Regions from separate parts of the Homo sapiens genome. Here region 2 is linked to region 1. The links come from fine-mapping of genetic effects on gene expression. A gene starts in region 1. The other region holds a variant in brackets. All regions are shown on one strand. Distances are from middle to middle.

Region 1 (4,395 bases):
AACACAAAGAGACTCTGTCTCTACAAAAAATAATAGGCCAGGTGTAGTGGCTCACACCTGTAATCCCAGCACTTTAGGAGGCCAAGGCAGATGGATCACTTGAGGCCAGGAGTTCAAGACCAGCCTGGCCAACAGAGCGAAACCCCGTCTCTACAAAAAATACAAAACTTAGCCAGGCATGGTGGCACGTGCCTGTAATCCCAGCTACTCGGGAGGCTGAGGCACAAGAATCGTTTGAACCTGGGAGGCAGAGGTTGCAGTGAACCAAGATCATGCCACTACACTACAGTCTGGGTCATAGAGTGAGACTCTGTCTCAAAAAAAAAGGTAAATAAATTTAAAATTGAAGAGAATCACCAAGACACTGTCCTAGGTGCTGGGGAAGAGGGGATGTATATGACCGGTTCAGAGCTACCCACTATGAGTAAAGTAGTCCAATGAGCTAAACAAGGGCTCTGGGGTAGGATCCAGCATCCAAATCCCAATGCTGTGTGTGCCACACATCCTCAACATACAACCACATAAAATCTTCACTCGAGGCTGTGCTCAGTGAATCACACCTGTAATCCCAACACTTTGGGACGCTGAGGCAGGGGGTTCGCTTGAGCCCAGGAGTTCCATACCAGCCTGGACAACATAGGGAGACCCCGTCTCTACAAAAAAAAATGAAAAATTTAGTCGGGCGTGTTGGCATGCGCCTGTAGTCTCAGCTACTGGGGAGGCTGAGGTGGGAGGATAGCTTGAGCCCAGGAGGTCGAAGCTGAACTGAGCGGTGATTCACGCCTCTGCACTCAAGCCTGGGTGACAGAGCCAGACCCTGTCTCAAATGAAGTAAAATAGGCCAGGCACGGTGGCCCACGCCTGTAATCCCAGCACTTTGGGAGGCTGAGGTGGGTGGATCACCTGAGGTCAGGAGTTCAAGACCAGCCTGACCAACAAGGTGAAACCCCGTCTCTACTAAAAATACAAAAATTAGCCGGGCGTGGTGGTGCGCACCTGTAATCCCAGCTACTTGGGAGGCTGAGGCAGGAGAATTGCTTGAATCCCGGAGGCGGAGGTTGCAGTGAGCCAAGATGGCACCACTGCACTCCAGCCTGGGCAACAGAGTGACTCTCCATCTCAAAAAAAATAAATTAAATTAAATTAAATAGAAAATTAAAAAATAAAATCTTTAAGCCAATCTTGTAAGTACGACCATCTCCCTTCTACAGGTGAGAAAACTGACGTGTACGGAGTGATGACAGGGTAGGGGCTGCGGGATTCGAACTCGGGCAACACGTGCAGTGTCACTCCTATCCACTACACGGTATTTTCCAGTATGATGGCATTAAGAACCACTTAACCGCGTAGACGCTGCAACAGGCACTTTGCAAACAGTGTTTCATCGAATTCACCCCAACAGGGTTACGTCCACGCAGCTGAGACTTAGAAAAGTCCCGCGACTTGCCTTAAGTCGCCACACGCGGCTAGGGCCTCGGGAAGCCGTCACGCCCTCGCTCCGTACCCTGATTGTGGGAAGCCTCCCCTCAGCACTCACGATGCGCAGTCTCTGCCTCAGTGTCACAAGGCGGACCCCACTCCCCTACCCGCGTAGGGAGCCCCGAAACTCCGTCCATGCTCGCCCCGATTGCCCCCGATGGTCGTCTTCCCTCCCCCGACGGGGCCTAAGAGGTCGGCTAAGCCCCGCCCACCTCCTCAGTACGGGGCCTAGGGTCTCCCCGTAGCCCCCCGGGACGGAAGCAGCCGCGTGGGGGAGGGGAAGCGGGGAGGACGCATGCCCAGAGGGCTCCACTCGGCCTCTAGCTCACCTGGGAGTCACGGAACTCTACAACCACGTTTTCGCTGCTCCATCGCGCCGCCATCTCCCCCGCCCGGCCGCCGCGGCCCCAGGACGGCGCCCTCCCACCCCGCCGTCCCCAGTATCCCGGGACCGTGCGCCCCACACAGCCAGAGAATCAGCCCCGACACGCCCCGTGCCCTGGTTGCTCCTGAGCTCAAGCCATTGGTTGACCCAAGCATAGGCTCCGCCCCTTCTTCCTGGGTCCTCCAATTGCTACACCGCGCCTGCAACAAACAGGCACGCCCTCGCTCACTTCCGTCACTTGGTTTGAGTCACCCACGCTCCTCGCGATTGCGGGCACACCCCCTGCCGCGAGCTCTGCCGGGAGTTGTAGTCCAAGCTCGAGCAAGCGTGGGTGACCTGGGAAGGGCTCGCAGGTTTGGGTTTGGGTGAGGTGAGGTGCCTGTTGTCCTGACTAGCTCCTCGCTGGAGTCCCCAGCATTCGTCCAGACCCAGTCTCAAATCAAAATCAACGTTCGGGGCGGGTGCGGTGACTCACGCCTGTAATCCTAGCGCTTTGGGAGGCCGAAGTCAGGAGTTCGAGACCAGCCTAAACAACATAGTGAAACCCCGTCTCTACTAAAAATACAAAAATTAGCCGGGTGGCGGGCGCCTGTAATCCCAGCTACTTGGGAGGCTGGGGCAGGAGAATCGCTTGAACCCGGGAGGCGGAGATTGCAGTGAGCCGAGATCACGCCATTATACTCCAGCCTGGGTGACAAGAGCGAGACTCCGTCTCGGAAAAAAAAAGAAAAAAGAAAAATCAAAGCTCGTGCAAACCGAAGATACCTCTTCTCCTGATGCCTATCCCATCGAGATATTTAAAAGTCTGAATGTGCAATTTATTGTTTCATACAATACAGCAGCGCCTCCCGTAACAATGAAGGTAGACTTAAATGTGAGAATCCAGCTGTTTTCTTGATCTGTAGTCCAATGCTCTACCTGTGAGCTATACCCCCTCCTGCAATCCAGCTGCTTTCTTTCCTTTTCTTTTTTTTTTTTTTTTTTTTTTTTTGAGACAGAGTCTTGCTCAGTCGCCCAGGCTGGAGTGCAGTGGCGCGATCTCGGCTCACTGCAAGATCCGCCTCCTGGCTTCACGCCATTCTCTTGACTCAGCCTCCGGAGTAGCTGGGACTACAGGCGCCCGCCACTACGCCCGGCTAATTTTTTTGTATTTTTAGTAGAGACGGGGTTTCACCGTTTTAGCCAGGATGGTCTCGATCTTCTGACCTCGTGATCTGCCCGTCTCGGCCTCCCAAAGTGCTGGGATTACAGGCGTGAGCCACCGCGCCCGGCCGCTGTTTTCTGATAAACCAAACATTAAAACAGATTTGCCAGAATTTTTTGTTGTTTTTTTTTTTTTTTGAAAATATTGTTCTTTTTCATTTTAAAATGTATTCATGTGAAGGGCCTTAATGTTTAAATGAAATAATGAATATATTTTTTAAATTCTGTATACTACATATAAAAGTTTTTGGGGGCCGGACGCAGTGGCTCATGCCTGTAATCCCAGCACTTTGGGAGGCTGACGTGGACGGATGGCTTGAGCCCAGAAGGAGGCTGCAGTAAGCTAGGATCACATTACTGTACTCCAGCCTGGGCGACAGAGCAAGACCTTGTCAAAAAAAAAAAAAAAGTTTTTTTGGGATTTTCAGTAATTTTTAACAGCAGTGTAAAGGGATTCCAAGATCAAAAAGTTTGAGAACCACTGTACTAACATGGTGGGTGGTGATTAAGTTTCCTTTTCAGTCCCACACTCTTAAATGTTGATTTAACTGGTTTAGCTTCAGTTTCCCTATAGAAGGGAAAAATGGCTTACCTCATTGGATTGTTGTAAGGAACTAAGCACAGGGCCTGGGATGTAGAAAAGCTCAACTATAAACTATTAATTCAGTTCTAGAAGCCAGGAAATCAATAAAAATAAAATAAAATAAACTGTTATTGTTGTTGTTAATATTATCACTATTTGTATGTGCAAGTCATTGTATGAATAGAGGTAAGAAAGTGTGGTCTCTTCCCTCCTGGAGTATTGGCTATAAGGGGGAAGACAGACTTGTTGACAGATTACGGTGACTAACTTGTTGCCTGGACCGTTTCATGTTTTATTTTTATTTTTTTGGAGAAAGGGTCTCGTTCTGTCACTGAGGCTGGAGTGCAGTGGTGTGAGCATAGCTCACCACAGCCTCCAACTCCTGGGCCCAAGCAATCCTCCTGCCTCAGCCTCCCAAGTAACTGGGACTACAGGCATGTGCTACTATGCCCAGCTATTTTTTTTTTTTTTTTTTTTTACTTTTTGTAGAGATGGTCTCGTTGTGTTGCCCAGGGTGGTTTCAAAGTAGTGGCTTCAAGCAAGTGATCCTCCGGCCTCAGCCTCTGGATTAGCTGGGACCATAGGTGTGAGCCACCATGCCTGATCCCTTTTCATATTCTAGCACTGCATCACCAAAAAGTCTTGCATCCCAAGAAACCCATAAGTTCCAGGCAAACTGGGACAACTGGTTACTCTACAACAGGAATGTGCTTGGCAGAATGACTTGTATATTATAATAGATTTG
Region 2 (4,395 bases), 57 kb after region 1:
ACAGTTCTACCAGAAAGTATCCCAAAAGATTTTCACTGTATATAGGAACCTGCAGTTAGGGATCCTCCAGATGTTGTGGGATATTGGTTGTTACTGTTTTGAAACTGAGGTATAGTTGACATACCATAATATTCATACATTATAAATGTACAATGAGATTTAGTAAATATATAGTTATGAAACCATCACTAAAATCTTTTGTTTCTTTCTTTTCTTTCTTTTTTTTTTTTTTTTTTTTTTTTTTGAGTCTTACTCTGTCACTCAGGCTACAGTACAGTGGCATGGTCATAGCTCACCGCAGCCTTGACCTTCTAGGCTCAAGGGATCCTCCTTCCTCAGCCTTCCACGTAGCTGGCACTGCAGGCGCGCACCACCACGCATGGCTTAAAATCCAATTTTATAACACTTCCATCTCTCAAAAAGTCCTTTTTTTATTTTTATTGTTTTAAAACAAGGGCGTCACTCTGCCACCTAGGCTGGAGTACAGTAGTGAGACTGTAGCTCACTGCAGCCTCAAACTCTTGGGCTCAAGCAATCCTCTCACTTTGTCCTCCCAAAGTGCTGGGATTACGGATGTGAACCACCACATCTGAAAGGGCCACTTCAGAAAGTTCCTATGCCTGTTTTTAGTCAATCTCTGCTCCCCACCGGGCAACTGCTATCTCTCTAGATTTGCCTTTTCTGGGAATTTCATATAAATGAAATCATACAGTATGTATTATTTTCTGTTTGGTGTCCTTCACTCACCATGTTTTTGTTTTTGTTTTTTGTGGGTTTTTTTTTTTTTTTTTTTTTTTTTGAGACAGAGTTTTGCTCTTGTTGCCCAGGCTGGAGTGCAGTGGCGCAATCTCGGCTCACTGCAACCTCTGCCTCCTGGGTCCAAGTGATTCTCCTGGCTTAGCCTCCTGAGTAGCTGGGATTATGGGTGCGCGCCACCATGCCCAGCTAATTTTTTGTATTTTTAGTAGAGATGGGGTTTCATCACGTTGGCCAGGCTGGTCTCGAACTCCTGACCTCAGGTGATCCACCCACCTTGGCCTTCCAAAGTGCAGGGATTACAGGCATAAGCCACCATGCCCAGCCCACTTACCATGTTTTTAAGTTCATATGTGTTGAGTATGTATCAGTAGTTTGTGCTGACATCGGTAGTTTTTATTGCTAAATAGTATTCCATTATATGAATTTACCACAGTCAGTCTATCCATTCACCAGCTGATAGACTTTTGGATTGTTTCTAGCTTAAGACAATTATGAATGATGCTGCTGTGAACATTCATGTTCGTGATTTTATGTGGACATAAGATTCCATATGAGAAGTTTGTGTTTAAACGTTTGAGAAACTGGCAGCCTTTTCCAAAGTGGCTGTACATTTTACATTTTCATGGGCAATGGTTGAGAGTTCCAGTTTTGCCACATCCTTGCCAACACCGTGTATTGTTGACTTACGGATTATAGTCATTCTAGTAGGTATGTAGTGGTACCACATTGTGATTTTAATTTATTTTATTTATTTATTTATTTTTGAGACAGGGTCTCACCCTGTCGCCCAGGCTAGAGTGCAACGGCATGATCTCAGCTCACTGCAGCCTCTGCCTCCTGGGTTCAAGTGATTCTCCCACTTCAGCCTCCAGAGTAGCTGGGACTACGTGTGCATGCCGCCATATCCGGCTAATTTTTGTATTTTTTGTTACAGATGGGGTTTCACCATGTTGGCCAGGCTGGTCTCCAACTCTTGACCCAAGTGATACGCCCGCCTCAGCCTCTCAAAGGTCTGGGATTACAGGCGTGAGCCACCGTGCCCAGTCCTCACTGTGATTTTAATTTGTATTTCGTTAGCTAGTGATGATCCCTTTTCATGTGTTTAACAATTCACTTATCTTTTTTGG[T/C]GAAATGTCAATTCAAATCTTTGCTTGCTTGTTGTTTTCTGTTTTTAAGACTTAATTCTCTCAGGAGTTCGAGACCAGCCTGGCCAACATGGTGAAACCCCATCTCTACTAAAAAAAAAAATATATATATATAAAATTAGCTGGGCATGGTGGCAGACGCCTATAATCCCAGCTACTCGGGAGCCTGAGGCAGGAGAATCACTTGAACCTGGGAGACGGAGGTCGCAGTGAGCTGAGATCATGCCACTGCAGTCCAGCCTGGGCAACAAGAGCAAAACTCCGTCTCAAAAAACAAAGACTTAATTATTTTAATAGAGCAGTTTTAGGTTCACAGCAAAATTAAGAGGAAGGTCCAATGATTTTCTGTATATCCTCATTTTTAAAAATTGAGTTGTTTGTCAGTGAGTTGTAAGAGTTTATGTATTATGAATATGTCTTTTGTCAGATATGATTTGCAACTATTTTCTCCCAATGTGTGGCCTGTGCTTTTATTTGCTTATATGGTATCTTTGGAAGAGCAAACATTTTTAATTTTGGTTGTCTAATTTATCAATTTTTTGCTTTTATGAATGATGCTTTTGGTATATGTAAAAAAAAGTGTCTAGACCAAGGTTACAAAAATTTCTCCTATTTTCATCTAGAAGTTTTATAGTTTTAGCTCTTACATATGTCTGTGTTCCATTTTGAGTTAATTTTTGGATATGGTATGAGGGAGGGAGTGTCTGTTTCTTTCTTTTTTTTTTTTTTTTTTTGTAAACACACATATTTCTAGTTGTAGCAACATCATTTGTTGAAAAGACCATCCTTTCTTCCTGAATTCCCTTGGCAGAATCAACTGGTCATAAATGTAGTGGTTTATTTCTCGGCTTTCAATTCTGTTCCATTGATTTATGTGTCTGTTGCTATTGTGGTTACTTGTAACTTTATGATAAGTTTTGAAATTGGGTAGTGTACAGTCTCCATTTTTGTTCCTCTTTTTCAAAATAATGTTGGGTTTTGACTATCCTAGGTCCTTTGCATTTCCATGTACGTTTTAGGATCAGCCTGTTGATTTCTGCAGAATGGTTTTTGAATCCTGATATTTTTTCATTCAGAGGTCCTTGTGACCTCTCACAGAGGGCCTGAAATGGGCTCACTGCTCTTTAGAGGTTATAATAAGCGAAGGCCTGCTGTACACCAATGCTTGATGTATTAGCGTTCTTCCAGGTTTGGCATGTTGGGTTTAACAGCTAGTGGGAACGCAGGCCAAGGCCAGCTCCGGGACGGTAAAGATGACCCTTGAGTGCTTCCCTTGGTGTTATACTTGGTGTCATCCCACCTCCTTGTCTCACTGGTAGTTGGCACTCCAAAAATACTTGAATAGAAGTGGGAGACTGTCTACAATAAAGAACAAGTTGAGACTGATGCATTTATCATCTCTCCTCTTTTTGAGCCTCCTTTGTTTTAAAGCCGTATTTATACCAATGAGTTTCTAAGCAGCCTGGCCAAGTCTGGTTCCCTCAGCCCTGAGCTGTGGCCAGCTTCATGGTTGATTGCATTTATCAGATTTTTTTCACCTGTTCTTGCCTAAGCCTGTAACACATTATCACTGAAACCAGACATGGTTTTATCTTTTCAGAAGCTTGTGAGAGGAAACTGGTGCTTCCCTTCCTCAGTTTTACTTTAAGGAACATTTTTTCTCTTTCTTGTAAAATTTGGCTGTTCTTCTTTTACATTTTAGACATGTGTTTGTTTTGAACAGGCTGCCTTCCAAAACTGTACAGTTCTTATCTTCCTTCTACCTCACCAGGCCTTTTTGTGCTGGATTCACTCAAACCCAGCTAATACTTACAGAACATTTAACTATAATATATGCAAGGAATCATTTTCAGTCCTGATAGATACACAGAAATGGATAAGACATGGTTCTTGCCCTCATAGAGCTCACAATCTGATAAACTCTGATAAAAGAGACAGTATATGGCATATATACACAGGTATATATAGCATGTAAGAGACATGGGGGATCCTGGGTTGGGTGGAGTACTGGTTTTCCACGAAACCTGTTGCATATCAGGAGCCAGCCATTCTTGCTTTGTACTTTTTTTTTTTTTTTTGAGACAGAGTTTTGTTCTTGTTGCCCAGGCTGGAGGGTAATGATGCGATCTCTGCTCACTGCAACCTCCACTTCCCTGGTTCAAGCCATTCTCCTGCCTTGGCCTCCTAGGTAGCTGGGATTACAGGCATGCACCACCATACCCGGCTAATTTTGTATTTGTAGTACTGGCTAATTTTGTGTTTGTAGTAGAGACGTGGTTTCACCATGTTGGCCAGGCTGGTCTTGAACTGCTGACCTCAGGTGATCCACCCGCCTCAGCCTCCCAAAGTGCTGGGAATACAGGTGTGAGCCACCATGCCCAGCTGCTTTGTACTTTTAAAATGTGATCTTGACTTTCAGAATTTAAACTTTGGAATTTCTTAGAGTGGTTTAGATGTCACCTTCCCTAGGTGTAGGACAGATAGAGCTCTG

The links. PIP is the estimated chance that this variant, and not a neighbour inherited with it, causes the effect.
Region 2: its variant is the best candidate, but not a certain one, in a credible set for the expression of WDR59 in whole blood (TOPMed, PIP 0.80).

What each region holds. Positions count from the first base shown.
Region 1 is chr16:74,983,156-74,987,550 of GRCh38, forward strand. WDR59 (WD repeat domain 59) reads right to left here and starts at 1,968. Exons shown (of 26, transcript NM_030581.4): 1 at 1,809-1,968. The coding sequence starts at 1,862. RefSeq lists silencers at 1,714-2,023, 3,059-3,259 and an enhancer at 2,354-2,413.
Region 2 is chr16:75,039,825-75,044,219 of GRCh38, forward strand. All of the region lies in intron 1 of ZNRF1 (zinc and ring finger 1), which reads left to right. Among named protein-coding and RNA genes, the nearest start is that of ZNRF1, 43 kb to the left of the region's middle. The variant T/C (reference allele first, on the strand shown) is at 1,887.